4 separate regions of the Homo sapiens genome follow, and all the other regions are linked to region 4. Evidence: fine-mapped expression QTL. A gene starts in region 4. Each other region holds a variant in brackets. All regions are shown on one strand. Distances are between the middles of the regions.

Region 1 (8,104 bases), 42 kb before region 4:
ACACTGTCTCAAATTAAATAGATGAATAAAATAATGAAATAAAAATAAAATTCTGATCTCTTTCCAGTCTCACTTCCTTCTCCAGGCCCTGGTGTGTGCGTGAGTTTTCTTCACAGGTGATCTCTTTTCCCTCCCCCTAAATTATCACTTCTTTTTCCATATTTACCTCCCAGTCTCAGGGTCCAAGGAGCTCCAGCCTGGTCCTTCCTCAGCACTATTTCCTTAAAAACCGAATGTCCTCCTGAATTTTTGCATCAAGCGGGTTTGTTTGACTTCCTATTACTGTTTTCAATGACTCCGGATGCGCCCGATGAACTGACTGACACGTGGAATAACCGTGTACACAAACACGGAGTGCCTCACGGGGAAGTGACTAAGGCAGAGGAAGGCTAACGGATTCGCTGAACTGGGAGTCCCCTGAGGCCTCGCCAACCTCCTTGCACGGGGATACCAATCCCTTGAAGCCCCGCCCCGCAAGCTCGCGCGGGTTTGTCCAGAGCCAATCAGGGCCTGACCCTTCTCGCGGGAGCTGCTGGGATGCGCAGCCGCATAAGAGAGCGCGCGGGTCTCCAGAGCCTGAGCTAGTCAGAAGCAACAGTTGCTACTGCGTCCCCCGGACATTGGGAGAATCGTTTTCCTTGGGCAGCTGGTTCCAGACCCCCACCAGTCCTCTAGACTCCAGGCCAATCAGTTGCTAAGGGACGTTCCTCTCTCAACCTGGTATGTGCGGGAAGTCAAGGCATTAACTAAGGCACAAAATGACTAGTGCTGGACCCCAGGGCTGGTCAGAAGGCACCCTGTGTACTCATTGTTTCCTGTCCTGCACGCGAGGCCCCTATCACCGAGAAAACAAGACACACGATGAAGCCCAGCCTCTCTATTCCCATTCCCAAACCCATCTCTGACCTATCTCCAACCCGATCCCTATCCTCTCTCCTATTCCTTTTCTACATTTTTTTCTCTTCTTTCCCAACACTGGCACTCTCCCTCTCCCCAGCCTTGTCTGCCTCTCCCTCCCAAACAGAGGATGTATCTTTAGTAGAAGCAAACACCAAACCTGTTACATAGAGGCTTCTATCCTCAACTCAAAACCTCTGCTGCCCAGGATTCTCACACAGCTCCACTGGATGTGATTCTCAAACAATCTGCACTTTCCAGAATTACAAAGCATAAGAGGAAATAACCCTCCATAAGTGAGGACAAAACCTAAACTTCCCACTAGAGCCCTGGAAGGCCTGCAAGTTCTGGCCCTTCAGGAGCTCATCCCTCAGTCAATTCCAGTCACAGCGGCCTGCTCTGGGCTCCTGAACTCACCAAACTGTTCTCATGTCAGAGCTTAGGATCTACTGCTCCCTCTGTCTAGCCAGCTCCTAATAATCCTATAGGTCTCAAGGCAAGTGTCACTTTCTCTGAGAGGCCTTCTCTGACTCTGTAATCCAACCTAGCTTCCTTTCCTGTGCTTTCTCATAGTATTCTGTCCTGTTTTCTTTCTAGCACTTATCAACATTTTAAGCTATAAATTCGTCTGCATTTCTTCATCGTCTGTCTATGTAGACCATGACTCCACGGAGGCAGGGTGAGTGTCTTACTTCTTCCCCTCATTATCTGGCACATGGTGGCACATCTGATATTTCTGTGAAATGTGAACTGCCTGTGAGAGGTGCTTATACATGTGGGGGCTAACGTAAACGTCCACCCTGAGTATAAGATGACCATCTAGCTGGTGCTACAGGATCACTGTATTTACCCACAAATATTGCCCCAGGGAAGAGATGACCCTCTTTCCACCTACTGAAAACTACTAGCATCTGGCCAGGCACGGTGGCTCACTCCTGTAATCCCAGTACTTTGGGCGGCCGGGGTAGGTGGATCACCTGAGGTCAGGAGTTTGAGACCAGCCTGGCCAACATGGTGAAACCCTGTCTCTACTAAAACTATAAAAAATTAGCTGGGTGTGATGGTGTGTGCCTGTAATCCCAGCTACTCGGGAGGCTGAGGCAGGAGAATCACTTGAACCCGGGAGGCAGAGGTTGCAGTGAGCCGAGATTGCACCATTGTACTCCAGCTTGGGCAACAAGAGCAAAACTCCATCTCAAAAAAAAAAAAAATCTACTAGCATCTGGCTAGAAAGGAGGTTGTCATCCATTCTGAGAGGAACAATACATAGTTGTGGTTCATTCTAATGCCAGAATCCCTTTCCCATTCCTTGCATGCCTGCCTTTCAATCTGGCCAAGAACTATTGCGATAACCTCCTAACTAGCATCTTTACCTCCAGCCTTACCCATTCTAAATATATCATATGTGGGGTCAGGGTACGGAAATGATTTTTCTGTCTATATCTGGTCACTCTACTTGCTTGCTTCAAACCTTAAAACAGCTTATAATTAATTAAATCATTTGACAAACATTCTTGAGATCTTATTGTATTTTAGGCATCATTCTGGGTGCTGGTGATAAAAGTAGAAAACAAGGCAGACAAAGTCCCTGTTCTCTTGGAACTTACATTCTAAGGGAGTCAGGATAAGGTCCTACAAGATAAAGCTCCAAAGCTCCAATGAATCTTGGCATTCAGGGCCCATCGTCATGTTTTTTCTCACCTGCATCTCTGAACAGTACTTTTCACCCATTCTCCACCCAGATATGGGTCATGTGATGTTCAAAGGATGGGGAATGAAAGATCTTGTCCAAAGATAGACAGCCACCAAGCACTGAAGTTGGGATTCTATCCAGATATGAAGGCTTGAAAGCCTGGCGCTCTTGTAGGTGTATCTCAGGCACTGACACACAGTAGGCGCTCAAAAGTAACTTGCTGATGGACTTGATTCATATTGTCACATGTATTTTTCCTTCTTTTGACACCTTCCCAGGGTGGCACAGATTTCTTCTCATTTAGCCAAACAACAAATTACAAAGTGTGTCTTCAGAGGTTCTAAGACTAGGTCTAAGAGTAACCACCTATTCAATGGAGAATGAGTGTTAAGGGATGTGTAGGAATTGAGAGGGTTTTGTGAGCTGAGGAGAGTCCAGGGGGCTCCAGGTTTATTACAGCCTCCAGGGTTTCTGTGAGCGCTATAAATTTTGCAGATCTTTGTAATTCCAGGGATAATGGCGACTCCAGGTATGAGGCATGTTCCACAGGCTTAGCTGGCTCGTTTATCTTGCTTTTCCTGAAAGCGAGGTGCAAAATAGAACAAAGAAAAAAGAATGTTGGAACAGGTCTAGAGGTGAGGTATCCAAATCTTAAAAAGACACCCCCTTGTGCACAGAATTAAGGCAACATGGAGTGAGCACTGGCTTAGCCCTTCCTCACAACCCCATGGTTAAAGCCTGCAACTCGGTCTTCTCCATCTGGTCCTCTCTGTGCATCTTCAGTACCCATAACACTGACTGTTCCTTAGACTCCTCAGGGAATCTTGCCTGACTTCCTCAGGTAGGTTTGGTCCCTCCCTCTTCTGCACCACCGTAACTCCTGGCTCAGCATCCCCTACTGTGAAGGTGCCTTCTCGACCAGTCTAGTTGCTCTCTGAGGACAAGGCCTAGGTTTGGCCCATTTCTGAGACCCCAGCATTGTCGAGCACAAAGATTAGGAGATATTGCAGGAAATATTGGTGGAATTTAACAGATGGCTTATCTACAAAAGGACACCAACTGTTCATGCAGGGTGTTAGGAGGGCAGCAGGATAATTCTGATTCTGGAGAATCATAAACGGTAAATAACAGTGAGGCATAGCAACCTCGGACACTGTATCTTCCAAGCCCTGCTGAAGATGTGGGGTACAGGGTGAATGAAGGAGTAACCTGGGCTTGGCCTAATCTCTAACCACTTCAGGCTGACTTGGCCTGTGGCATCTACACCAAGCTGACTGCTGCCGGCCATACACTCAGAGGCCAAATCCTTGGTTTCCACTCTGATGCTACAACTGCTATTAGGATTTTCCCCAACTGCCTTTTCAGTGGGGATTCAATGTAATGGTGTGTGCGTGTAAATTGATTTTAATTGTTCTTTAAATTGTTTCTCTTAACTTTCATCCTTCTCCTCTCTGGGCCTTAGCTTCCTATTTATAAAATGACCTGAAAGCACACTCTAGCATTAGGTATCCTGCAAGACTGAGGATGATAACACCTTCAAAACACTGTGTGCTCCTTTCCCTGTGGGTCTTATTATCAGTATTCCGATAGACTAGATTCCAGACACAATAGGTACATACCAATATCCGGCTCTCAGAAAATGTGGCGACTACGGGTTTTCCTGGTTCCTCAGGCTTCAGAGACATCTCAAGTTCTTGGCTTGCTCTGACTTTAGAGCTCTTTTTTGCTCTGATCGCTGCAGCTTTCTTCGCCTGCTTCTTTCTGATATGTTTCACTCTAAGGAAATAAGCCTTGGATTGGTTCTGGCTCTCCATCTCCCTGAATCCCCAAATGGGCTCTATCTTGACCAGAACTTCTGATTTAGAGCCTCAACAACAGTACCAGCTTGCTGTATGACCTAGGGCAAGCCACACATCCTCTCTGGGAATTAGTTTCACACTCTGAATAAGGGGGATACCCTGCTTATTAGGCTGTGGGGCTCAGATGAGGTCAGCTAAGAAAGGGCCTTGCAACTGGCAGAGAGATTGTTACTGGTCTTCAAGTCCTGTTGATTATACTTTGAAAATAGCTCCTCAGTTTGCCCTGACACCTCACTCCTCATCTTTGTCTC[C/T]CCATAGCCAGCCATGCCCAAGTCCCACCTCTCTGGCTGCCCCTCATCACTTGCCCCAGGTCAGGCCTTCTATTTCCTGCTTAGTCCCCTGCACCAGCTTCCTGCCTGGCCTCTGACCTTCTGGCTCTCACTCTCTCTAATCTGTGTCCCACCCCAAGCTCAAGCTTTCCTTCACAGCTTAGCACTCTTCCATGGCTCCGAAATGAGGATTCAGTCCAAGCTGTCTGGACAGGCTCCCCTGCCCGTCTCTCTGGCCTGACTTCCTGCAACTCACCCCTTCCCACTCCATGCTTCTAGCTAATACATGCAGCTAAGTTTTAACACCCTGTGAACCAACACCAAGGATGTCTTTCAACCTCATTTTTAGCCATTACCTGGTACTCTCAATGCACCTGACATTATACAAAGACACTGGAAATGCCTCAAACATGCCTCTGGGCGTCTGCATACAAAGGTTAGATATCCCTTATCTGAAATGCCTGGGGCCAGAAGTGTTTCAGATTTCAATTTTTTTTTTTTTTTTTAGATTTTGGAATATTTGTTTATACATAATGACATATCTTGGGGATAGGAGCCAAGTATAAAAACAAAATTCATTTATGTTTCATATATACCTTATACACATGGCCTGAAGGTAATTTTATATAATATTTAAAATTATTTTGTGCATGAAATAAAGTTTGTGTGCATTGAACTATCACATGAGGTCAGGTGTGGAATTTTCTACTTGTGGCATTATGTCGGTGCCTCGAGAACTTTTGGACTTTGGAGCATTTCGGATTTTGGATTTTTGGATTAGATACTCAACCTGTACTATTAATACTTTCCACCAAGCTAACGAGTACTGAACCCTTGCAGGCCCACCACAGACAGCACCCCGGGGACTCGCTGCTGCCTTTTCCAGGGCTGCCAAGTCCCTTCTTGGTCTTCTCCTTTATAAAATGTGTTCAAAGTGTCTGTTTTATGACACAGTTTTACGGTTCTGTATAGTCCTCATGGCCCTGGATTGTGGTGACCATGTTTGGTACATCTTTCCCTCTTTAGACCCTAAGCTCCTTGAGGGGAGGGGTCCTGTCTTTGCTCTCTCTGTGCCAGGGCTGCAGCCAGGGCCTGCCCGGTAGTAGGCTTGCGGGTGAATATTAACCCTAGTACTCACATGAGAGGGAGGAGGCAGAGGAAGAGCAGCGCAATTACAATTCCCGCATAGATAGCACCCTGGATCAGCCCTTTCACGAAGGCCTGGGCAGCCAAAGAACTCTTTCCTGGAAGCAGAGAGCATGTGAGAAGTTTGGCATCGGAGCCAAAACTCTGCTCCATTCTCTAGCCCCAGTGACTGTCCCCATCCCGCTTATTGTCCTCACCCAGTCACCGAGCCCCCTCCACCCTCACTTGACATCAGTAGGATGCTCAAAGCATGGGTTCCGTTTTGGTTCTTCCCCTCACAGAGAAGTCTCATGCCCATTTCTGGCTCTTCAGTTAGGCTGATGGTGCTGTTAGCCCAGGGGCCAAGCATGGTGGAAGTCACTTGGAGGCTGCCATCCATGCCATCCACACCCACGGGGACTCCTCCCATCCACCACTGCACAGAGGGTGTGGGAATCCCATGGAAGGAACAGCTGCACTGCAGTGTCTTCTCCAAGGAGCAAGAGGAGTTGAGCAGCTTAGCAGGTACTGTGGGGAGGAAGGGTCAGGAGTCAGCAAGGCATCCTGGCTTCCCTCTTCCAGTTTCTCCAGCATGCAGCCTTCTCTTTACTTGCTATTCACAAGGAGCTTCAGAAGGACTTTCTGGAAGCCCACAGGATTCAGGCCTCCCAGACCAGTTCCCCTCTATCTTCTGTCCTCATCTGGCCTGAACCTGATCGCTAGACCTTCTTGAGGGGTGGCAAGTAAATTTCCTGAGGCTCTACATTGTCTGTGATCCCTCACCTACCCTGCAAGGCTAGAAGTCCAAGCCAGACCTCCTACTCTGCTTCTCTTCTTCCCACCTGCAATGTTCCTCTTAGGCTCTATGACCAATTCTCCCTCCATCACTTCCTGTCTGGGTGCTGCTGGGCAAGTCACTCCCCTTATCATTGCTGTTTCCTAGCCTGGAAAATCGGGATATTTGCTGAACCTATCTCATATTATCATCGTTATAAGAATGAATGCCCCAAGATTTGCAGTGCACCCAGCTCAGTGCGTAGTGAAGTATTACCCATTCAATAAACAGAACACCTTTCTTAATTTCCTTCTTCCCGGTCTCAAGTGGTCTTTGGTGGAACATTCACTGGAAGCCAAATGTACTATGGCATCTTCTGTGTAAGAATGCTGGAAATTGCCTCGCTCTATTTAGAACAGGTAGGACATGGTGGCCATTTGATGAATATCATGGATTAGGAGGGAACAGTCACATTCATCAAGGTCTCTAATAATGAGGAATCTGTCTTCAGTGTTGACACACACTTTTTCGTTGAAGTTTTTTGAGGTTACTGGAAGAAAGGGGTAATTTTCCCCTAACCAGTAGCTCCTGATCTCGGTCTCTTCACCTGAGTCACTTGCGGGGCGCTGTTGAGGAATCTGCGGGGGACTCTCATGTACGGACCCCTCTATGGCTGTCCTCTGAATTGTCTTTTCCACCTGGCAAAGTGTGCCCACAGAAACACTGAAAAACTTAACTTCAGGGCTTCCAGTAATGTCTGAAACAGCTCCTAGTGCTCTCATGCCTTCATAGCACCTACACTCTCCATCCCTCTCCCTTGCCCAATTTGCTATTTGCTTCAGACACACCAGCCCTGTCAAAATCTGACACACAGAAGCTGTCTAATTCATGTTGATTATTTGGTACTTATGCCCATATGTCCTCTTTCTCCATGCCTCCATAGCCCATCCTCTGCCCTGCCAACACCCAGGCCCTGGAGTCTTGGCTTCCAAACACACCTCCAGTGCTGCTTCTCACCTTACTTACCCAGCTGTAGCAGTGGAAGCATCACTTCCAGCAGCAACAGTTCTCAGGAACAGCAGAAGCTCTTTACTACACTGGCTCTGACATCAGAACCATATGGTTCAGAAGGAGTGAGGTGATGCGTAACTGAAAGAGGATGTGGGGATGGGGAGAGCAGAAGTATCTTTAGCCAAGTCAGGGGCTTCTGTCTCTGGTCATCGTGAAGGCCTGTTCACCTGGAGAAGCAGGAATTATATGGGATGAGAGGCTCATGAGCACGTACGGACAGGGAGGCAACTAAGATTGTCTGTGAAGCCTCAGTGTCATGTCTGCTTTATTCTTTGTTTTATTTTTGTTTTTTGAGATGGAATCTTACTCTGTCGCCCAGGCTGGAGTGCAGTGGCTCGATCTCGGCTCACTGCAATCTCCATCTCCCATGTTCAAGCGACTCTTCTGCCTTAGCCTCCCGAGTAGCTGGAATTAC
Region 2 (8,104 bases), 83 kb before region 4:
TTAGGGGGAAATCTAGGAATCTCCTTGACCACCCCCTGCCTGCCAGGCCCTACTGGGGAGACTCAAGGTCCAGCTATCTAACCTCAGTGCAGAAACCTGCCCCTGGCCCTCTCCCCAACTGGGAGGGCCGGGCCGGGCCGGGGTTAACCCTTCAACCTGCTTTAACCCTTCCCTTCCGTCTTTCCTTCATCCTCCCATGCCCATCGCTCTTCCACTGTCCAGCCCCACGAACCTAGACATTCAATCAGAGCTTGGGAATCCAAGACCCCAGCCCAGCACCCCAACTTCCTGTATCTCCAGCTCCCTTCTCCCCCACATAACTGCAACCTCCCCAAGTACCAACACTTTCTCTCAACCTAGATGACCCTGCTGGGGGATTTCAGACCCTTCCCCTCTTTTCCTGACCCTGGGACTAGGTCTGTGGACACCCTTGTCCCCTCCTCTTACTGACCCTGGGAAGGCATCCATCCCCTGACCTCTGTCCCGAGATGACTACCCCAGCCCCCGGCAAGGACCTCTTCAGGGACCCTCTCCACGTACAGATGAAGACCCCTAACAGGGCATTATCCCCTGCCCCCCACCCCAACTCAGTTCGGAGATCCGACCCGGGGACCCCGAGTCCAGTGTCTGCCCCCTCCTCAACAGGAGCCGCAGACTCCTGCCCCCAGGCAGGGCTAGGTGTCTGCGACCCTCTTGCCTGCTCGGGGAAGCAGACCTCCGCCCCTAGACCCGGCTCCGGCCCGAGGACGCCGACCCCTGCCCCGGGGCGCGGACCCCCACGTCCGAGGTCCCCCTGCCCAGCCAGGGAATGCAGACCCCACCCCCGGGCCCAGACCCCGGCGTCCCGGGGCCTCCCCGCGCCGGCCCAGGGATGCAGCCCTCGACCCCCACCCCTGATCCCCCGATTACCCACCCAAGACCCTGGCGTCCCGGCCGAGCCCCCCGCCCCCGGCGCTGCGGTACCTCGGCTGATGACGGCCAAGCCGGCCAGGGCGGCGGCGGCGAGAAGCCGGAGCCGGGCCCCGGGCGCAGGGGGGGGCATCGCGGCAGAGGCGGCGCGGAGGGGGAGGGGAAAGGGGGGGCCGGTCCGGGGCGCGCGAGGCCTGGGGGGAGAGGGGGGAGGGGGAGGGGGACCCCGCCTGCGCTGCACCGGCCCGGGGGGCGGCGGGGGCGGGGGGAGGGGGCTGGGGGGGCGCGACGAGGCGGCTGGAGCTGCTGCAGACCCGGGGAGGGGGGCGGCGCTGACGGGCAGGGAGACCGGCCAATCAGGAGAGGTGGGGGGCCGGGGAGGCGGGGTCAAGGGGGGGTTGCTTGTTGGAGGGAGAGGCCTTTGTTACTGCGGCCCGGCCCCTACCCCTCCCGCCCCAGGCGTCCCCACGTCTTTCCACCACATCCGCAGAACACGGAGTCTGGGATACTTCCTAAAACCCAGCTCCCTCCTCCTTCAAGTCCCAATCTCATCCTCCCATGGACCTAGGAGACTAGCCCCAGTCCCTCCTCTCTCAGACCCAGGAGCCCAGGTCCCCAGCCCCTCCTCCCTCAGACCCTGGAGTCCAGGCCCCCAGCCCCTCCTCCCTCAGACCCAGGAGTCCAGGCCCCCAGCCCCTCCTCCCTCAGACCCAGGAGTCCAGGCCCCCAGCCCCTCCTCCCTCAGCCCAGGAGTCCAGGCCCCCAGCCCCTCCTCCCTCAGACCCAGGAGTCCAGGCCCAGCCCCTCCTCTCTCAGACCCTGGAGCCCAGGCCCCCAGCCCCTCCTCCCTCAGACCCAGGAGTCCAGGCCCCCAGCCCCTCCTCCCTCAGACCCTGGAGCCCAGGCCCCCAGCCCCTCCTCCCTCAGACCCAGGAGTCCAGGCCCCCAGCCCCTCCTCCCTCAGACCCAGGAGTCCAGGCCCCCAGCCCCTCCTCCCTCAGACCCTGGAGCCCAGGCCCCCAGCCCCTCCTCCCTCAGACCCAGGAGTCCAGGCCCCCAGCCCCTCCTCCCTCAGACCCAGGAGTCCAGGCCCCCAGCCCCTCCTCCCTCAGACCCTGGAGCCCAGGCCCCCAGCCCCTCGTCCCTCAGACCCAGGAGTCCAGGCCCCCAGCCCCTCCTCCCTCAGACCCAGGAGTCCAGGCCCCCAGCTCCTCCTCCCTCAGACCCTGGAGTCCAGGCCCCCAGCCCCTCCTCCCTCAGAGCCAGGAGTCCAGGTCCCCAGCCCCTCCTCCCTCAGGCCCAGGAGTCCAGGTCCCCAGTTCCTCCTCCCTCAGACCTAGGAGTCCAGGCCCCCAGCCCCTCCTCCCTCAGACCCAGGAGTCCAGGTCCCCAGTCCCTCCTCCCTCAGACCCTGGAGTCCAGGCCCCCAGCCCCTCCTCCCTCAGACCCTGGAGTCCAGGCCCCCAGCCCCTCCTCCCTCAGACCCAGGAGTCCAGGCCCCCAGCCCCTCCTCCCTCAGACCCAGGAGTCCAGGCCCCCAGCCCCCTCCTCCCTCAGACCCAGGAGGCCAGGCCCCCAGGCCCCTCTTCCTGTGGGCCACAGTTCAGCTTTTCCATCTATTTTCATGGATAACGAAAACACTGACTTTTGGAGTGAAATTTGCTTTTTTCCTCCACCCCAACCCTCATCCCCAGTATAATAAGGCAATGGGAAGGGATTGGGGGACTTATCTTGGGGGAGCAGGTGGGGAGGAAACCATAATCCAGGGTTTAGGTGCAAAACATCCTGGCTCCCTGTTCTTTCACTGACTTGGCTGTGTGACCTTGGACAAGCCATTTCTCTTCCCAGAACCTCAGCGTCTTCCCCTGCAAGGTGGAAAATTCCCTATTGCCCAAGGTTATTGAGAAGAATGAGAGATCTTGGAGCAGCTCCTGGCTCCAGCCAGCACCTCAAAAACCTGTAGTGAGTTTCTCCCTCCCCTTTCCACTTTGCATCTGTTTACTAGGTGTATTCCACCCTCCTGTTCCCGTCCCCTTGGCATACGCAGGAGCAAAATAATCTCTGAGTCTACGTTATTTCTGTAGCAGTTCAAGGCAGGAGCTTTTGAAGTTACCCAGTAGGGGCTGTTCTGCCTCAGAAACATATCCATCCTCAATTCCTTCCCCCTCCACTCACATCCAATTTGTCTGCAAGAACCGCTGGCTCTGTCTCCAAAACAAATCTCTGCTTTGTCCTTTTCTTACTCTCCCATCCTGGTCTGAGCTTTCACCACCTCTCCCTGTAGGACTCTGGCTGTAGCAGCCTATGCTCTACTCTCTTGGCCTCTACCTTTGCCTCCACCTTCAGAACAACCACCACTAAACACCTGGACCAGCTAGGGCCACTCCCTGCCTCAATCACTCAGCTCGCTGTGACCTTCTTTCCATTCCTTAAACAAACCGAACAATTCCAGCCCCAGGGTCTTTGTACTTGCCGTTCTTTCGCTGGAATGCTCTTCCTACCACACTGGCAGATGACTCTTTCTTATTTAAGGCTCATCTTCTCCCCTTTAAGAAGCCTTCATTGATCATAGTTTCCAAAGTAGCTGCTACTCCCAGCACAATAACTCTACGTCATACCTCTTCATAGCACTAACAATGTTCTTTTGCCTTTTCCTTTTCTTTTCTTTCTTTCTTTCTTTCTTTCTTTTTTTTTTGACAGAGTTTTGCTCTTCTTGCCCAGGCTAGAGTGCAATGGTATGATCTTGGCTCACCACAACCTCTAACTCCTGGGTTCAAGTGATTCTCCTGCCTCAGCCTCCTGAGCAGCTGGGATCACAGGCATGCACCATCACAGTCGGCTCGTTTTGTATTTTTAATAGAGATGGGGTTTCTCCATGCTAGTCAGGCTGGTCTTCAACTCCTGATCTCAGGCGATCTGCCCGCCTCGGCCTCTTAAAGTGCTGGGATTACAGGTGTGAGCCACTGCGCCCGGCCGATTTCCTTCTTTCACTGTTATTTTTAGTTGCTCTCCCCCTACTCCCACTTCCAGAATGTAAGCTTCACGGAGTTTTTTGTTTTTGTTTTGGTCTGCTTTTGTTCAAGGCTGGATTTCCAGAGCCCAACCTAGTGACTGACATGTAGTACGTACTCAAATAAATACGTACTGCATGAGTGAGTCGGATGGCTTAGCTCCGTTTGGAGAGATGGAGGGAAGTAAGATACAGAGGGAGGAAGAGACCTGCCTGCGTTCACAAAACTGGGTGATGCAAAAGTTAATGGTGTTCTGCAGGTGGCTTGCACTGGCTCAAAAGAGCTGATTATTAAATTTTCAGAAATTGTGCAAGCCAGGTGTTAAACCATTATTAGCTTGAAACTGGCCATGTTGGGAGGATTTACACCACAGCAATGGTGAACACTGAATCAGCTTGCCAGCCCACCACTCTACAAAATCCATTGTGATCCTGGTGAAAGGCCATTTATTGATCCTCTTTGAATTCCGGACCGTTCAGACTTAGGATGAGAACAGGAGCTCCCTCTTCCTGAAATGGCCCATCCCATGCCTGATAAAATATGAGTGCTTACT[C/T]GGTGTAGGGATCTTTCTAAGCACTTTGTACATATTATCTCCTTGAAGCATCATGACACCCTTCTGAGGCAGCACTTATCTTTATCCCTATTTCACAGGTGAGGACAAAGAGACATGGAGAATTTTTTACATCCCAAGAGCTATAAATGTGTGATACTGTGAAATATATATTTGGTCTTCATAACACCCCCGCTACGTCCACTGGCAAGCCCCAGGTAGCTTCAGTATGGGGGTTGGTCACAGGAAAGAACAAGGCATGATTAAAAGGTTGGGACTTTCAGCTCATCTCCCAGCCTCTGTGGAAGGGAGAGGGAGTGAAAGTTAAGTGGAGCACCAATGGGCAATGATTTAATCAATCATGCGTATGTAATGAATGTTCCATTAAAAAACCGCAAAAGACTGGGTTTAGGGGGCTTCCGGACAGTTGAACACACGGAGGTTCCTGGAAGGTGGCATGCCTGGAGAGGGCATGGCAACTCCATTCTCCTTCCCCTGCACCTCACCCTGTGCGTCTCTTCACCTGTATCCTTTGTAATATCCTTTATAATAAACTGGTAAGCATAAGTGTTTTTCTAAGTTCTTTGAGCTGCTCTAAAAAATTAATTGAAGAGAAAGGTGTTATGGAACCCCAATTTATAGCTGGTCAGTCAGAAGCACAGGTAAAGAACCTGGAGCCTACAATTGGCATTGGAAGTGGGGGACAGTCTTGTGGGACCAAGCCCTCAACTTGTGGGATCTGCTGTGAAGTCCAGGTAGATGTATGAGGATTGAATTGGAGTACACCCAATTCGTGTCCACTGCAGAACTGATTAATTGGTTGCTGGTGGGGAGAAATCCCTACACAATTCTTGGTGACACCAATCAAAAGAGAAGTGTTGATTGTTAAGTGAGAGAATAGAAAAAGCACTTTGGTTGTCTTCCCTATAGCCTCAGATTTGGTGTCAGAAGTGGGATGAGTAAAACAGAAATTGATGGAGTTAGAACAAAAGTCTTAATATAATACTATTTAAGGTTGGGTGGGCCAAAGGGAGTACTTGTTGGTTCCCTAACATTAAAGGGTTCCAAAAAAGTTTGCTGTATTTACCTTAGTTTGGAGAAATTTTAAAAGTCAGAAAGCAAAGATTAAAATAAGACATCTGATCTGAAATTTTCTGGGGCAATAGTCTGGCAGTTTAATCAAGATAAAGATTAACCAACAAGCAAGAGTTCTTTTGCTCAACGCCCTGATGGGGACCTAAAGCCTTATGTACACAAGTGGACAAAATGATCAGGGATGCAGAAGAGAAATTCATGGGACTCCTTGATATGGGAGGTCCACTGACTATGGTACCAACATCCATTGGTGAAGTCCTGACTTGGGATTAGATTGAGAGAATGTAAAAATTTAAGGGTTGTAGTATTGTGAAACCAAAAACCATTGATAAAGTTCTAATAGAGGCTACAGTTAGGAAAGTGAGGGTTGGTGGAATTAAGATAAACCTTTATAGGAGAGTTGGTATATTTGAACACATTTTCTCTGAAGTGATTTTACCTGATTATATTATGGGGATGGATGTTGTATCAGACTGGGAAATGTTTCCCATACCTAGCATTATGAAACAAAAGCCATGTAAATCTGCCTTTAATCAATATTAATTGGACATGCTAAATAGGAACCAGTCAGATCTCTGGAGCCCACAAAATGTAGAATAGAAGACAGAGTGATGCTATGGACAAATTCTCTGAGACAGAGCCCTGTATGGAACCCAGACTGGGGCCTATGGGAACAGCCTATAAGCACCTTCCAGTGACAACTACTGAGACTCTGGACTACAGAATTTCAATTTGAAGAGCATAATACTACTTTCTATGGGATATTAATTCAAGCTACCCCTATGACTGAGGACATAAAATGATCTTGAAGCCTGAAATACCAATAATCTCTTGGATTATGTTTAAAAACACTCTAATGGAGATTAAAATGCCCAGAAGAGTCCCCTAATAAATTAGAAATGATTTATACAGGATCATGCTACCTAGGGAATGCAAGGAGGAGATACTAATAAAAAAGGAGCCTCTTTCTCCCTCGGACTGACTCTGGAAGCGTATGGGGAGCAGCTGGATCCTACTGCCACTTGGACAGTGCCCTATAAACAGCTCTCAACTAGCCAACAAAGAGCTGCTTGGTGTGCAGATGACAGTGCCAAGATGAAAAGACCACGTTCTATTTAGAAGGATGCCATTCTGATCAAAGAAGATAAAAACAAATCCGTCCAGTGAGCTGAATTGCATGCTGAAGAATTGAACAGTGGTAAAAGCCCTTCCGTGTGGGTTTTTACTGACTCACAGGCAGTGGCCAATGGCTTGGCCATATAGTCAAGCAGGTGGATAATGGAAACCTAGCCTATTAAAGGGATGTCCATATGGGACACACACAGCCCTTTGGAAATTTGAGGGGTCCTTAAGGTAGGACATGTCAATGCCCACCAGAAGAGCTCTCTTCCAGGTCTGGAAGGTGATTGAAATCGACAAGCAGATATCCCTGTGTGCTCACTGGGTGGCCACCTGGGTGCATGAAATGAGAGGACATGAGGGCACTGCAGCAGTGCAGAGATGGGCTGAATCTAAATATGTTTCTATTGCACCCTCTCAGGCACATAATGCCAATAAGAACTGTTCTGTTTGCCAGCAGGAGAGACAGAAGCTGCAGATGGCTATGGGCCAGATTCCCTGGTGGGAAGGTCCCAAGCACAGCTGGCAAGTGAGGCTGATGCTGGTAGCCCTGGGGGGCTACAAATGGGTCTTGACAGGAATAGACGCTGACTCTGGGCTGGCCTTTGCTTACCCAGTGGAAGATGCAAATGCTCAGAGTGCTGTAAAAGAATCAGAACAGAATATATTACACACATTTGCACAGGCTGCCGTCATTTCTTCCGACCAAGGAACACACTGTCTAGCCCATAATGTCCAGCAATGGGCAGAGAGCTGTCCTTTGGGTAATAATTTGATCAAGAAGTGGAATGAGCAATTAAAACTTTGGTTGTCAAAAACAGGGGAGATAAAAGCATGAAGGATGTAGCCATAATTTTTTTTAATGTACCCATAAAAATAAAAATTTAAAAAAAAACAGGAAGATTTGGCTTACATGCCCTCCTGTGTGCTCACACTCAACCTGATGGGACTAGAGGAGCGTCACCACTAGACTTTCCTGTTTTCTGGTTGACCTGGGAAAGTGGGGGTAGGGAGAATGCTGGTGTGGCTATGCAATTCTTACCAAGTTGCTATAATGACTATATATTTTTTTCTTTCTTCCAGATATAACCTCATTTTTTTCTCCTACCTGATGCAGTGGTCCTAGTAAAACCAACCCAATTGTCCCATAGAAGTGGCATTTACTATTTTGTTTTTTTTGAGGCAGGGTCTGGCTCTGTCATCCAAGCTGGAGTGCAGTGGTGCAAACCTGGCTCATTTCAACCTCCATCTCCTGGGCTCAAGTGATCCTCCTACTTTAGCTTCCTGCATATCCTACAGATGCATGCCAGCATGCCTGACAAGTTTTAAACTTTTTTGTAGAGACAGGGTCACGCCATGTTGGCCAGGCTGATCTCAAACTCCTGGCCTCAAGCAATCCTCCTGCCTCAGCCTCCAGAAG
Region 3 (8,104 bases), 21 kb before region 4:
GGGGCGTGATAGCCGCTGCAAGACCTGCTAGCTCGCATCCTTAGGTGAGTGCATCCACCCGCAGCCAATCAGCGGCTGCATGGGCTTACTTTACACAGCCAATCAGAGGCTGCATGTGCTTATTTTACAACCAATGAGAGGCTGCATGGGCTTATGTTGCAGCCAATCAGAGGCTGCATGGGCTTATTTTATAGCCAATCAGAGGCTGCATGAGCTTTTTCTACAGCCAATCAATGAAGCAGAAGCATTGTGCCCACAGGCGTGTGCCCCTGGGAGCTGATGCACGGCTGCCAGAGTCAATCAGGAACTGCAACTGCAACTCCCTCCTCCAACCTTTGTGCCCAATTGGATCTTGAGGGCTTGAGCCAATCCGCAGCTGGGGGCGGTGCCAGGGTAGTTTGTGGGCCAATTTTCTTCCCAGCAAGGCCTTTCCAGCCCGTGCTGATGAAACCACACTCCTCTCCAACCCTGAGGACTCCGTTCCTCTTGTTTAACCCTGTTTATTTTTTCTCACACTTTATCCGTCACGCACTTTCTTACCCATTACACTTTCAAAATGACAGAGGCATTTGAGCCAGAGCAACTCCGTCTTGAATAGGAGCTGGGTAAAATGAGGCTGAGACCTGCTGGGCTGCATTCCCAGAGGGCTAAGGCATTCTAAGTTACAGGATGATATAGGCGGTCAGCACAAGATACAGGTCATAAAGACCTTGCTGATAAAACAGGTTGCAGTAAAGAAACCAGCCAAGGCTGGGCTCGGTGACTCACGCCTGTAATCCCAGCACTTTGGGAGGCTGAGGCGGGCGGATTACCTGAGGTCAGGAGTTTGAGACCAGCCTGCCAACATGGCGAAACCCTGTCTACTAAAAATACAAAAATTAGCTGGGCGTGGTGGCAGGCACCTGTAACCCCAGCTACTTGGGAGGTTGAGGCAGGAGAATCGCTTGAATCCGCGAGGTGGAAGTTGCAGTGAGCCGAGATTGCACCACTGCACTCCAGCCTGGGCAACAGAGTGAGACTCTGACTCAAAAGGAAAAAAAAAAAAAAGAAGCCAGCCAAATCCCACCAAAACCAAGATGACAATGAGAGTGACCTCTGGTAATCCTCACTGCTACACTCCTACCAGCACCATGACGGTTCACAAATGCCATGGCAACGTCAGGAAGTTACACTATATGGTCTAAAAAGGGGAGGCATGAATAATTCACCCTTTCTTTAGCATGTCATCAAGAAATAACCATAAAAATGGGCAACCAGCAGCCCTCGGGGCTGCTCTATGAAGTAATCATTCTTTTATTCTTTTACTTTCTTAATAAACTTGCTTCCACGTTACTCTATGGAATAGCCCTGAATTCTTTCTTGCAAGAGATACAAGAATCCTCTCTTGGGGTCTGGATCAGAACCCCTTTCCTGTAACAAAAACACTTTGTGCTAAATATCATTTGCTAATGGTATTTTTGTTTATGGTTTGACTGTGCCACTAGAATAGAAGCTCACTTTTTGGTTTTGTTTTATGGTACATGGGAGACCTCCACTCCCTATTACAACAGTCTCCACCTCCCTGTTGCAGCAGTTCCCCTTCCACTGCTGCAAAGATTCTTCTCCCTTTATTGGAATAATTGTTTTGGATAAAATCTTGCCTTATTTATGTGCAGATTTTTTTTTTTTAATGTGACAGACTGAAGGATGATGTTCACCCTCCAGGGCCTTACTCCATGGCCCTTACAGCTTGCAGAGCAGGCCCCAGATAGACTTCCCGAGAGGGGACCTGACTTTGTTCCCTTTACCCTAGCTGTAGCAGACTGACTGCTATTACCTAAACATCTGCCAGCCCCTCTTCTACCTCCTTGCTTTGTAATTGATATTATCAGTACCTAAACTGCTTTTCCTCGCTTCTCTGCTTGCTGGCTCTTGCTTTCCCTTCAAGGTGCAGTTAGAAAGGGGCTTCCTCTGAGAAGCCTTTTCTAACTTCTTTCCCATCCCTGAAAGCTCTTGCCCTTGGGTCCCCAGACCCTAGGCCATAATTATCCCCATAATTTATATCCTTTGCCATCTTTATAGGAACCTTATCATACTGTGTTTCAGTAAGTTACCTATTTCTGTCCCTTTCCCAAACATTACCCCATGAACTTGAGCTCTCCCAATTGTCAAAATAACTAACTGGGAAGCCATTAGGCTGAGATGGCTCCAAGGCCTTTGTTTCCAAGTAAGCAAATTCAAACCTAACTCAAAGTGAATGGTCATATCCTAGAAAAATGAAACTTAGGCTTAACCAATCGAAACTGCCTACTAACCTCTAAGTAGAGACTTTACCAATCAGAAACTGCAAGTTGACCTCTAATTACAAACTTTAAGGCTACCGTTCCCCTTTAACCAAATGAAACTATTTTCTTTGTTTTGATTCCAGGAATACCTTATAAAAGTTTTCCTTGTGTGCCCACTAGGTGGTTTGGCACTTCTGGATTCATGAATGTCAGCTCAAATAAATTCTTTAAAATTTTAATGTGTCTAAGTTTATATTTTCATATGAGCCAGGGACTGTATCTTCTTCCTTTTGATGTTCTTGGAGGAGCTGAAGCAGCTAGGTTACTTGGGGTATAAACATGGGGTTCCGCTGGCACATGCCAGGACAATTTAGGACACAGAAACACACGAGGATTTTAGGAGTGGAGGTTTAATGGGTAGAAGAGAAGAGAAAGAGAAACTGCTTCCTCTAAAGAGGAAGGGGTCTTGGAACGGAAAAAAAGACCATCTGGTGGTGAATGCTGCAAATTTTATAGTCCCATTTGAGGAGGTGGTGTCTGATTCACATAAGGCTCATAGATTGGTTTGATCGGGTATAATGTTTAAATAGCACACAAGGAAGGCTGGTAACCCCACCCTAATCTTCTTATGCAAATGGACTTTCCAGTTGATCAGTGCCACCTTGTCTGCTCCTTACAGCACGTGACAGAGAAGGGAAGATGGAGCGGCCATCTTGAAAATGTCCATTCCTTAGTTCCTGCCGTCATTCACTCATGCAAGCTCCCAGGTTGCAGGCTGCTCTTTGTTAGAAACTGATTTGGGGCTGCTTTTCATTAAAAAGAAAAGCCTTACCAAGGACTCCCATGCCCTTGCTCTGGGCCTAAGTAATTCCTTCTTAACTCCTGTATTGGTGTAGCATGTAGTAGGCATGCAGGAAAAGTTTGGAAAACAAAGAAATTAGAACCTCAGGATTTCTCAAGACCGTCTTCATAAATGTGATAACAAAGGAATTCTTAACAGGACCCGTTCAGGATTAAACAAGTTTTACTGGGGGTCTTGAGACCCTTGAGACACTAGGGGCTATCTCTCCCTCCGTCTGCCTCTCAGGGTGTACTTTTGCTTTGCGATAAACTTCTTCAAATGCACTAAATTGTTTTGAAATTGGGCAACGGCCGGACACGGTGGCTCACGCCTGTAATCCCAACACTTTGGGAGGCTGAGGCGGGTGGATCACCTGAGGTCAGGAGTTCGAGACCGCCTGATTAACAAGGTGAAACCCCGTCTCTACTAAAAATACAAAAATTAGCTGGACGTGGTGGCAGGCACCTGTAGTCCCAGCTACTTGGGAGGCTGAGACAGGAGAATTGCTTGAACCCAGGAGGTGGAGGTTGCAGTGAGCCAAGATCACACCAGTGCACTCCAGCCTGAGTGATGGATCCAGACTCTGTCTCAAAAAAAAAAAGAAATTGGGCAACATAGTGGTTTTCGTAGTGAACTTGAAGAACTAGAGAAAGTTCATTTTGTTCAAGTATCTATGTGAATACAGAGGAGGAAGGCTCTAGTTCAGTGTTTCTCAATTTGGTGCTTTTTTGCACCCTGATAGACACCTGACAATATCTGGAGTCCTTTTTTGGTTGTCAAAACTGGACTAGGGGAGCTACTGACATCTTGTGTGTACAACCTAGAGACGCTGCTCAACATCTGACCATGCACCCTTGTTCCTGGACCAAACCAAGGGTCAGGCTGCTTATTCTCTTAGCCCAATGACAAGATGCAGGTGAACTGGGAGAGAAGGGAGTTTATTTCTGTAACTGGGCACAGGGAGAAGATCTGGAAAATATTGCCAGACCAACTCAAAATTACAAAGTTTTCCAGAGCTCATATACCTTCTAAGCTATTTGTCTACATGTAAGAGTGCATTCATCTGGACGTAAGCGATTAACTTCTTCCAATCTGTAACTAAGATGTCAGTCCTGAAGATCTTCCTCTGTAGCCTCAGTAAATTTATTTAAACTAAATGGGTCCAGGTGCTGGGGTGATTACCCTTATCTTGTCTCCTGCTAAATCATGGAGGTTTGGGGAGTTCCTTCAGACCCCCAATAAACTTGTTTGTGGAGGCTTAGAGGAGTTTCTTCAGACCCCCCAATAAAACTTGTTTAATCCTAAACGGGTCCTGTTAAGAATTCCTTCATTATCTTGTTATGCTCAAGGCCCAGAAAAGGCCTGGGCAAAATTCTTGGTGGGCTTTTGTTACATTCCAGCCTTTGTATGAGGGCACTGGCTCTGTCAGCTTTTAATATTTAACTTAACCACTCAATCAGTGCTGAGACAGTTGTTATGGAGGCCTGCCTGTTCAGCGGTTAGGGAGACCTGACCTGCCACACCCTCCCCTAACCACCACCACCAAAGAATTATCCAGCCCCAAATGCCAGAATATGAATATCGTTGAGGTTGTGAGGCAGGATAAGTAAGGTTAGGAGGCCATACTCACTTGTATCCTTGCGCAAAGCCCCATGGATCCCTTTCGAAGCAGATTCTTTGGTTTTCACTCTCGTGAGTCAGCACCTAACTCTTGCAAGATAAACAGTCCTACAGGATACAAGCAGACCACCAGATGGTTGCAAGTTCCTGTTAATGTGGCCTGG[G/A]AAAGAGAACAAAAGCCACTTATTCATGGTGTAGTTTCCCCAGTCTCCAGCCAATCAACACCAAAAACCCAAGAAGCTGTGAGCTACAAATTCCTGCCTTGGGGGAGCTGGGAACTTCTCCAGGGCTCTGCGTGTGCAGCTATGTTCAAAGTTTAGCTTATAGTGACCTTTTCCTCATTTGAATAGTAGAAAATACACCCCTAGGTGGAGATTTTATATGCTAATGATACATGCAATGCGTGTTAGAGCACATAGATTCTGAGTGCATGCCTTTCATGCTGGACTCACCAATATTTTATGAATATGTATGTATAGTTCCCATGAAAGGAATTACCTTGAGATGCTAGAGGCTGTCTCTCCCTCCCTCTGCCTCTCAGGGTGTACTTTCGCTTTGTAATAAACTTCTTTGCCTACTCTTACTTTGGACTCGCTCTCAAATTCTTTTGTGCCGCAAAGTCAAGAACCTGAACTGGCCCACCAACAGCAGTTGATAAACTGCTCTAATCCAAGCTGTGGGAAAGTACAGGGGCTGGGAGAGGGGACAGGGTAGGGAATGCAGCTTGTCTGAGGAGGTGATGTTTGAACCAGCTCTCAAAGGATGAGTGTGTGCTGCAAAGAAGGAGGGCAGGGGACAATATTGCAAAGAGACAGAACCACATGAATGAAGCATGGAGAGGCACAGAGGGACATGCAATCTCTAGGATGTGGCTGAGATGTGTGAGGGGTGGTAGCTGAGGGTGAGATTGTAAAAAGTTATTTTTTGTTTTGTTTTGTTTTGTTTTTTGAGAAAGAGTCTTGCTCTGTCGCCCAGGCTGGAGTGCAGTGGTGCGATCTCAGCTCACTGCAACCCCTGCCTCCCGGGTTCAAGTGATTCTCCTGCCTCAGCCCCTCACGTAGCTGGGACTACAGGTGCATGCCACCACGCCTAGCTAATTTTTGTATTTTTAGTAAAGACGGAGTTTCACCATGTTGGCCAGACTGGTCTCAAACTGCTGACCTTATGATCTCCCTGCCTCAGCCTCCCAAAGTGCTGGGATTACAGGCGTGAGCCACCACACCAGGCCTTTTTTTTTTTTTTAGACAAGGTCTCACTTTGTTACCCAGGCTGGAGTGCAGTGGCGTGATCTAGCTCACTATAACCTTGAACGCCTGGCTCAGGGGATCCTCCCACCTCAGCCTCCCAAGTAGCTGGGACTATAAGTGCGTGCCACCACACCTGTCTAATTGTTCTTTGCTTTTGTAGAAACAGGGTCTCTCTATGTTGCTCAGGCTGGTGTTAACTCCTGGCCTCAAGCAATCCTCTTGCCTCAGCCTCCCAAAGTGCTGGGATTACAGGCATGAGCCACTGTTCCTGGCCTGGGAAAAGCTTGAATAACTCTCACTAGAGTCAGAACATCATCTTGAGGCAAAGAGGCAGGCATGGGAGGATATTTAGCAAGAAAGATACAGGGTTAGAGGTGAGTATTAGAAAGCTCCCATTGCTGATGGTTTTGGTGATGGGCTGGTTGGGGTGGGACTGGAGCCCAGAGGCTGGGGAGGAGGCTTTTGCCATGTTCTGGGGAAGAGGAGTCAAGATGGGACCTGGATCTGAGAGTAAGGGGAAGGGGACAGGCCAGGAACTTGGTGACTTACAGGAATGGGTGAAGAGGGAAAGGGAGAAGTGGAACAAAACTCTGGCCATGGAGACTTAAAATAGGCTTTATATGGCCGGGCACTGTGACTCATGCCTGTAGTCCTAGCACTTTGAGAGGCTGAGGTGGGCAGATCACCCGAGGTCAGGAGTTCAAGACCAGCCTGGCCAACATGGTGAAAGCCTGACAGTACTAAAAATACAAAAAATTAGCTGGGTGTGGTGGCAGGCGCCTGTAATCCCAGCTACTTGGGAGGCTGAAGCAGGAGAATTGCTTGAATCCAGGAGGCGGAGGTTGCAGTGAGCTGAGATCGTGCCATTGCATGCCAGCCTGGGCAACAAGAGCGAAACTCCATCTCAAAAAAAAAAAAATAGACTTTATACTTCACTTTTACTATCTTGCACGTCAGTTTTCCCTGTGACCACAGGGTCAGCCATGTAATCAGGGTGCAAGTGAAAAGCCTGGCGCCACAAGGATATAGCTGGAAACCTGCAGGTCATTCAGTGAATCGAATCATTACCTTGAAGAATTTGGCTAGTGGCTGAGTTCACTTTGACCAGCCCCCAAGAGCTGGGGGCTTGGCATGCACCAGCCACTCTGTCAAGCATTGATTCATTGAATCCTCAGGATGAACCAGTGAACTAAGTGGTGCTATTATCCCCATTTAACAGATAAGCAAATGGAAGTAGCAGGAGGTTCAGTGGTGAGGCAGGTGTTCAGATGCTGGAGATCTGACTTGAAAGCTTAAATTATTATTTTTTTTTATTGATGTAAAATCACGTTACATACAATGAACATGTTAAAGTGAACAACTCGGTGGCATTCAGTACATACACAACGTTGTGTAACCACAACCTCTGTTTGGTTCTAAACATTTTCATTGCCCCAAAAGGAAAGCATGTACTCACTAAGCAGTCACTGCCCTCCTCGAAGCCCCTGGCAACCGCCGACCTGCTTTCTGCCTCCAGAAATGTATTTCCTATTCTAGACATTTCATATCAATGGAATCATATGGTACGTGATCTTTAGTGTCTGGCTTCTTTCACTTGGTGTGATGCTTTCGAAGTTCATACACGTTGTAGCATGTATCTGTACTTCGGCCCATCTTTATGTCTGAATGATATGCATTGCAGGAATGTACCAGATTTTGTTTATTCCTTCATTAGTTGATGGACATTTGGGTTGCTTCCAATTTTTGGCTACTGTGAAGGAAGTGAAAATTTTAATTGCTGCCTTCTGCTGCCTTCGTTAAGACAATTTTAACAGATTCTAGATCCTGGGAGTATAGCTGTGGTGGAGAGATGGATGGGAGCCTGTGGGATCCCAGAGGAGGGAGTTCCAGATTCGTCCCAGGGTAGTGCGAAGTTGAAGGATGCTTCATGCTGGAGAAGACCTTGTACTTGGGCCTTGAGGTATTTCATACTGTGGCCAGTGGAGCTCACAGTCCCCAGAGGAGAGGGAGCCAGGAGAAGGGAGGAGGAGGAGGAAGAGGTATAAACTCACCAGATTCAGGAAGTGGTTCAAACAGTGGCCTCTTAGAGGAACAGGCAGAGGAACCTAAATTGGGATCTGAGAGATTAGGGA
Region 4 (8,104 bases):
AGAGACAACTTGAGAGAAATAAATGCCTACATCAAACAATTAGACAAATTTCAAGTAAACCATTTAACTGTGCATTTCAAGAAACTAGAAAGCAAGAACAAACCAAATCCAAAATCAGCACAATGAAAGAAATCATAAAGATCAGAGCAGAAATAAATGAAATTAAAAAAAAATCAATGAACAAGTTCGCTTTTTGGAAAAATAAATAAAATTGACAATCATTAGCTAAACTAAGAAAGAGACAGAAGACATAAAAATTAATAAAATCATAAATAAAAAAGAAGATGTCACAATGGTTACCACAGAAATACACAGGATCTTAGACACTACTATGAACAATATGCCAACAAATTTGAAAGTCTAGAAGAAATGGATAAGTTCCTGGACACATATAATCTACCGAGATTGAATCAAGAAGGTATAGAAAACTTCAGCAGACAAACAACAAGTAATGAGATTGAATGAATAATAAAAGGCCCCCCAACAAAGAAAATTCCAGGGCTGGATGGCTTCAGTGCTGAACTTTACTGAACCTTTAAAGAAAAAAAAATTATGCCAACTCTTCTCAAACTATTCCAAAAAATTGAAGTGGAGGCAACTCTTCCTAACTCATTCTACAAGGCCAGCATAACCATGACACCAAAATCAGAAAGGAGACAATAAAAAAAGAAAACTAGAGGCCAATATCCCTGATGAACATAGATGCAAAAATATTCAACAAAATAGTAGCAAATCAAATCCAACAATACATCAAAAAGATAACATACCATGATAAAGTGGGATTAATCCCAGAAAGGCAAGAATGATTCAACATATGCAAATCAATAAATGTTATACATATGTCAACAGAATGAAGGACATAAACCGTATGATCACCTAAATAGTTGCAGAATAAAAAGCATGTGTTAAAATTCAATATTGTTTCATGATAGAAACTCTCAATAAATTAGGTATAGAAGGAAAGTACCTCAACACAAAAAAGGCCATATATGACAAACCCATGGCTAACATCATACTGAATGGAGAAAAGCTGAAATCTTTTCCTCTAGGAACTGGATGTCCACTGTTATGACTCTTATTTTACATAGTACTGAAAGTCCTAGCCAGAGCAATTAGGCAAGAGAAAGAAATAAAAACCATCCAAACTGGAAAGGCGGAAGTCAAATTGTCTCTGCAAATAACATACAAAAACCTAAAGACTTGGCCAGGCGTGGTGGCTCATGCCTGTAATTCCAGCACTTTAGGAGGCCAAAGTGGGCAGATTGCTTGAGGCCAGGAGATCAAGACCAGCTTGGCCAACATGGTGAAATTCCATCTCAAAAACAAAACAAAACAAAACAAAACAAAACAAAAACCTAAAGACTCTAACAATAAAACTCTCAGAACTGATAAATGAATTTAGTAAATTTGCAGGATGCAAAATCAATATACAAAAATCAGTAGCATTTCTACACACAATGAATTAGCTGAAAATAAATCAGGAAGGCAATCACATTTACAATAGCTATAAGAGAATGAAGTATACCTAGGAATAAATTTAACCAAGGAGGTGACAAGCCTTAATAAGAAAAACTACAAAACACTGAGGAAATAAACTGAAGAGGATACAAACAAATGGAAAGACATTCCTTACTCATCAGATGAATTAATATTGCTAAAATGATTATACTACCCAAAGAAATCTACAGATTCAAACCTGGCTCTATCAAAATATCAATGTAATTCTTCACAGAATTAGAGGAAACAATCTTAAAATTCATATGGAACTAAAAATAGCCTGAATGGTCAAAGCAATCCCAAGCAAAAAAGAACAAAGCTGGAGGTATCACACTACAAGATTTCAAAATTTCAAAACTAGAAAATTTCAAAATTTCAAAAATTTAAAGATTTCAAAACTACAAAGCTGTAGTAACCAAAACAGCATGATATTGGCATAAAAGCAGATACATACACCAATAATACATAATAGAGAACACCGAAATTAATCCACGATCTACAGCCAACTGAATTTTGACAAATGCATGAAGAACACTCATTGAGGAAAGAGCAGTTTCTTTAATAAATGATGCTGGGAAAACTGGTGCCATATGCAGAAGAATGACATTAGACTCACACCTCTCGTCCTATACAAAAATCAATTCAAAATGGATCAAAGACCTGAATATAAGACACAAAATTTAAAAAATACTAGAAAAAAACATAGGGGAAATGCTTTAGGACATTGGTCTGGAAAAATATTTTATGAGTAAGACCTCACTAGCACAAGCAACAAAAGCAAAAGTAAATAAATGAGATGATATCAAGCTAAAAAGCTTCTATGCAGAAAGGAAACAACCAACAGAGTGAAAAGGCAACCTACAGAATAGGAGAAAATATTTGTCAGCTATTCATCTGACAAGTGATTCATATCCAGAACATACGAGGAACTCATACATCTCAATGGCAAAGAAACCCAATCTCATTTAAAAATGGGCAAATTATCTGAGTAGACATTTCTCAAGAAAAGATATACAGATGGCCAACAAGTGTATATGAAAAATGCTCAACGTCACCAATCACCAGGGAAATGCAAATCAAAACCACAATGAGGTAACATCACCCCAGTTGGGAGGACTATGATAAAAAAAAGATGAAAATTAACAAATGATGGTGAGGATGTAGAGAAGAGGGAACTCTTATATACTTTTGACCAGAATGTAAACTAGTATAACCACTATGGAGAAGAGTATGGAAGTTTCTCAAAAAACTACAAATAGAACTACCATATGATCCAGCAACCCCACTACTGGGCATTTATAGAAAGGAAAGGAAATCAGTATATTGAAGAAACGTCTGCACCTCAATGTTTATTGCAGCATTATCCACAATAGGAAGATATGAAATAAACCTAAGTGTCCAACAACAGATGAATAAATAAAGGAAATGTGGCGTATATACACAATGGATTATCATTCAGCCATAAAAAATAATGAAATCTTGTTATTCACTATAACATAGATTGAACTAGAGGACATTATGTTAAATGAAATAAGCTAGGAACAGAAAGTTGAATACCACATGTTCTCACTCATAAGTGGAAGCTACAAGAAGTTGATTTCATAGAAGTAAAAAGTAGAACAGAGAATAATAAGGGCTGGGAAGGTTAGGGGAACAATGATAAGGAGAGAGATTTGTTAAAGGATACTAGATTACACCTGGAAAGGAAGAATAAGTTCTGGTGTTCTATACCACTGTAGGATGACTATGCTTAACAATAATAGATAGCTTCAAATAGCTAGAAAGGGGATATTGAATGTTCCCAACAACAATGAAATAATAAATGTTCAAGATGATGGATATGCTATTACCCTGATCTGATTACTATACATTATTAGTATGGAAACATCACTATGCCATCCATAAATATGTACTATTATTACATATCAATTAAAAATAAAATACCCCAAGACATTCAGAGACAGGAGGGAGACAAAGAGCATTATTTGGATGGGCAAGGGGGAAGTTGCTAGTCATCCCCAAATATCCTTTTCCAAGGTGCCTGATGTCTACCCGTGTCTAACTGCAGGCCTTGCCTCTGAACATTTGACTCTGAAAGTCCAGATCTGACCAAACCTGACACAGACTCAATGTCAGTAACAGCCCCAGGCGGGGAGGCTCCTTCCTACCTGAGCCATCTCCTGGAAAGATACCAGTTGTTGGGTTCTGTGGAACATCTAGGAGAGGAAGAGAGGATTTCCTTCAGTTGGGGGTAGAGATGAGATAAGGGTAGGCATTTCCCCTTACTCCTGCCAGAAACCACAGAAATGCAGAAGGGACAGGGCTCATGTCCTTCTGGCTCCCGAACTCAGCCAGGCCTCCAGGACACTAAATGTCCCCAGCACCAGCCCATCCTGTCTCCCCTACACCCTCAGGGACCCCAGCATCCTGGCCCAGCACTTACAGGTGACGTTGAGCTGGATGGTTCTCTCCGTAGTCACACCAGCTCCAGCGAACTTCACCTGACAGGTCAGGTTGGTGCCGTGGTCCTGGGGCCGTGGGGTGATTATGAGCACCGAGGAGTGAGTAGTCCTGGGGCCCAGGGAGGTGGGGGCAGCTGACAACCAGGAGAAGATCGGGGGTGTTCCCTGCTCACAGGCCCAGGACACAGAGCAGGTCAGGTTTTTGGAGTGGCCGGGTTCTAGAGTGCCAGGGATGAGGATTTTGGGCCTGTGGGTCAAGTCTAGTGAGGAGAAAGAGGGGATGCAGAATCAGGAGGGAGGGTCCAGGTGAGGGCCTGAGAGAAGATCAACCTCTGGTCAAGCTCCCCCGCTAAGCACGACAGGCTTTACCCCTAAACCCCTCCCAGTACCAGGGTCCCATCCCAGCCCTGCCCTGCAGTACCCATGAACTTCCCTTGCGGCCACTTCTGAAGCCTGTGCCTCACCTGTCACATGCACAGAGAGCTGGGGAGATTTGTAACTGTATTTGGTACTTCCTCTCTCCATCCGAAAGAAGTATGAACCATTATCCCTCCTCCTGGCGTCTACGATGCTCAGGGAGCAGTTGTTCCTACTGGGATCCCCAAGGAGGCGGAATCTGCCCTGAGTCTCCTCCTGTACTTCTTGATCTAGCTTGTTTGTGGCCACTGGAGAGTCCCTGGATATAATGGCTCCTTCCCGGAACCAGTAACCATGAACTGGGGAGTTCTTGTCGTAGTAGGGTATGGGATGGAAGAAAGTGCAGGGCACGAGGACGCACAAACCCTCCTGTACCGTCACTGACTCCTGCACTTGCAGCCAGAAATTTGGATCCATAGCCAGGGCCCCTGTGGGGAAACGAGGGTCAGCTCGGCCCAGCCCGACAACCCCTCTCCCCACAGCCACTCACCTGCCCACAGCAGGGGCAGCAGTAGCAGCAGCGGCATGTCTGAGGAAGCAGCTTCCAGGGCTTCCTGTGTGAGCAGAAAAGAGGAAGGGAGTGGAGGGGAAGGACTACAGGGCCGGACAGGAAGCTGGGGAGGAGCAGGAGACCTCAGCCCTGCATGGAAGAGGAACCTCAGACCCACACATGCTCAGAGCTTGTCCCCTCCACACAGATTGACCCTCATGGGCCAGAGATGCCAGAGACCCGCCCAGAGATGGGAGGAGATGGAGCAGAATCTGAGTCTTGCCTTCCAGGAGCACCAGAGCCTGGATCAGTACCTTCAGGGCCATCTGAGACATGCGAACCCCATGTCTAAAGTCCTTCCACTCTGAGGTGCTTTTCTGTGCACAACTGTTTACACCAGGGCTGATCACTGCTGGCCTGGCCCGAGTCGCAGCCTCACCTAGATCCATGGGGTGTTTAGTCCAGCAGGATATAGGATTCTATAGGGTCCGTGTGAGTGTCTGGGGCAGAGAAACAAAGAAGAGTCCTAGGTAAAGTGAAGGTGGCAGCCATTCATTTATTCATTCATTCACTAAAGATATAGTGAGTGACAGAGCAGGAGCACCGTCATCTCGGAGAAACACTGCCTCTTTAAGTTCCAATTTCCTTTCTAGCCTCATGCATTTCAAGGAAATCACTTCTCTGCTAACTACAAGCAACCAGAAAGAGCAGACAGTGAAACACAGATAAGACAGCTCGGGCACAGAGGGAGGTAGGGGGAGAGTCTCTTGAGTTACTGCCAAACTTCACCCTCATACAATGGCCCTAGTAAAACAGTGGGCCTTAATAAGCAAATTCCTTTCCCTTCAGGTGCACTAAGATAGGGAAGCTAAAAGCAGACTCAGTGGGTATGCCTGTAGCTGCAGAAAGATGTATGGGTACAGACACACACCTCTCTCTCCCAGATAAGCACAACAAAGAGACTCAGAAGCAGTCCAAGTCTCTGATAAACTCTCCCACCCTAAATCCTTAAAAACTCTTAGTCTGTAAGAGAGTGTGCCTCTGACTTAACTCGGCCAGAAACTCCTCTCAGGTTTGTTTTCTCTAAAATCTGTCTTGACTGGTGAGCCACCATTCGTGTTTCTTTCCTCTTTCTTTAATTCTTACAGTGAGCCTTTGTGTATAGGTGGGGCTTGAGAAGAGATGCCACTGACCTGATTCCTGCCCTTAAGATACTCCCCATCCATAGCCTCATGTCCTCACCACACACACACATGCTGTCTGGCTTTAGAGCTGTGAAAAGTTGGGAATTTGCCATGTATCATGGTAGCATATTGGAAATTTTAAAAGAAATATGACTATAGAATTTTCCCCTGGCACCTAGTACACTGATTTGCACAGTGTCAATGACATCTCCAAAACAAGAACCATGCAGCATCTTCCTGTGAAACAAAAGGGAGAACACATGTTCTATGAACCAGTGCAGAAAAAACTTCTTTTCCATTCATGCTGCCATTTGGTTCAGTGTGGGCAGAAGCAAGTTTTTTTAGAGGCTCATCATATGGATCAACATTTTCTTTCATGTAAAAATCTGCTTCTCACAGTTAAATATGGCCCAAAGACATAATATTTCCAGACAACATGAGTGGAGTGTACAGAGAAAATTAAACTTTAGGTCCAGCTACATGGTTTTCCATATCACTCTGTGTAGTATGCATCCAGCAAACCGTTGATCCCTGGGACATATTAGTACTTGCCACCATACCTTTGTCAAATCTCTACACACAATAGTATCTAGATAACTCTTCATTCATCCTTACTAATAGAGAGGTAGCTGCATCCTCATTTGATATACAACAAATTAAGTCTCCAGTAAATAATATCTGTTGTAAGTTATTTAAATATTTAGCATGTGGCACGTAATAGAAAATTCAATACATTTAGTGCTTTTTTTTTTAAGACAGGGTCTTGCTTTGTTGCCCAGGCTGGAGTGCACCGGCCTGACCACAGTTCACTGCAGCCTTGACCTCCCAGACTCAAGTGACTCTCCCACGTCATCCTCTCTAGTAGCTGGGATCACAGGCTCATACTACCAGGCCGGAGTAACTTTTTGTTTTTATGTTTAGGAGAGATGGGGTCTTGCTATGTTCCCCCAGGCTGATCTTGAACTCCTGGGTTCAAGCAATCCTCCCACCTCGACCTCCAAAGTGCTTTGACTATGGGCATGAGGCACTGTGCCCAGCCACATTTAGTTTTAACAATAAAGTCATACTATGTTCATGGACCAGAAGATCAAATATGAATATGTGAGTCTTACTGTGTTTCTTTAATGAATTTAATTAGGTATAATTTACATGAAATAAAGCACACCTACTTGAAGTTCACATTTGCATGAGATTTGACGAGTATGTACAGCCTGTATACTCACCACACTGCAGATATACAGCATTTCTAGTATGCCAAGGGCTTTTCTTCCCACCTTCTATGCTGGGCAACCACTGATATGTCCTCTTTCATTGTGAGTTAGTCTATTTGAAAATCTCCTAGAGATGTGTTAATTTGTGTCTGTATCCTATGACCCAGCATAATATTTTTTGAAACTGAACCACGTTGTTTGTGTCTGTATTTCAAAATGTGATATTGTTAAGTAGTATTCCATTTATGTGTATACTATAATGTTTTATTTCTCACCTATTGATAGACAAGGATTTTCCAGTTTTCTCCCTACAGGTATTCAGGTACAAGTCTTTTTACATACATGGTTTTATACTAATTGGTATACACAGGAAGATAAATAGTCAGACTAATGACTACTTGTAAGTTTAACCTTAGTAGGAATTGCCAAACTGTTGTCCAAAATGGTTTTGACTTTTTACCACTCCTCCTAGCCATGTGCCAGAATTCCAGTAGCTCCACACCCTTGTCGACGTATGATACTGTCCTGCTTTATATTTGAACAATTCTAGTGAGAGCATAGTGGCATCCAGTGTTTTAAATTTTTTAATTTATTTAAAGTTAGATACAGTTGAATTAACTCTTTATCATATGCAATTTTGATATGGTTTGAGAGTTGTATATAATTATATACCCACAACCACTGTGAAGACACTGAAGAGTGTCATTAACCAAACGTTCCTTCCTCCTGTCTCTGGGTAGTCAACCCTCCCTCCACACTTAGTCCATGAAAAAATGCTGATATGTTTTCCATCCCTACTGTATTGCCTTTTCACAGAATGTCGTATAAATGGAATCATACAAA

Alleles and levels. Alleles are on the strand shown, and positions count from the first base shown. SD is a standard deviation of normalised expression in the study named. Not every link is listed here.
As copies of C replace T in region 1, the expression in monocytes after LPS of the gene that starts at base 4,942 in region 4 goes up (large effect, 2.0 SD a copy in Fairfax 2014).

The links. PIP is the estimated chance that this variant, and not a neighbour inherited with it, causes the effect.
Region 1: its variant is fine-mapped to the expression of CD33 in monocytes after LPS (Fairfax 2014, PIP 0.95).
Region 2: its variant is fine-mapped to the expression of CD33 in whole blood (INTERVAL, PIP above 0.99).
Region 3: its variant is fine-mapped to the expression of CD33 in whole blood (TOPMed, PIP above 0.99). The same link has a PIP of 0.9 or more in subcutaneous fat.

The regions. Positions count from the first base shown.
Region 1 is chr19:51,263,635-51,271,738 of GRCh38, reverse strand. SIGLECL1 (SIGLEC family like 1) reads right to left here. Exons shown (of 6, transcript NM_001385465.1): 2 at 7,645-7,856; 3 at 6,090-6,371; 4 at 5,857-5,962; 5 at 4,210-4,366; 6 at 2,409-3,168. The coding sequence starts at 7,666. The coding sequence ends at 3,142. It overlaps LINC01872 (long intergenic non-protein coding RNA 1872), which reads right to left and starts at 473. Exons shown (of 3, transcript NR_136526.1): 1 at 167-473. LOC107985327 (a long non-coding RNA gene) reads left to right here and starts at 572. Exons shown (of 4, transcript XR_007067309.1): 1 at 572-720; 2 at 1,495-1,576. The variant C/T (reference allele first, on the strand shown) is at 4,701.
Region 2 is chr19:51,304,786-51,312,889 of GRCh38, reverse strand. IGLON5 (IgLON family member 5) reads right to left here and starts at 1,246. Exons shown (of 8, transcript NM_001101372.3): 1 at 964-1,246. The coding sequence starts at 1,042. The variant C/T (reference allele first, on the strand shown) is at 4,474.
Region 3 is chr19:51,243,028-51,251,131 of GRCh38, reverse strand. It overlaps SIGLECL1 (SIGLEC family like 1), which reads right to left and starts at 52. Exons shown (of 6, transcript NM_001385465.1): 1 at 1-52. The region is part of intron 2 of LOC107985327 (a long non-coding RNA gene); the gene reads left to right. The variant G/A (reference allele first, on the strand shown) is at 4,890.
Region 4 is chr19:51,221,918-51,230,021 of GRCh38, reverse strand. CD33 (CD33 molecule) reads right to left here and starts at 4,942. Exons shown (of 7, transcript NM_001772.4): 1 at 4,867-4,942; 2 at 4,424-4,804; 3 at 3,941-4,219; 4 at 3,666-3,713. The coding sequence starts at 4,903. The region is part of intron 2 of LOC107985327 (a long non-coding RNA gene); the gene reads left to right.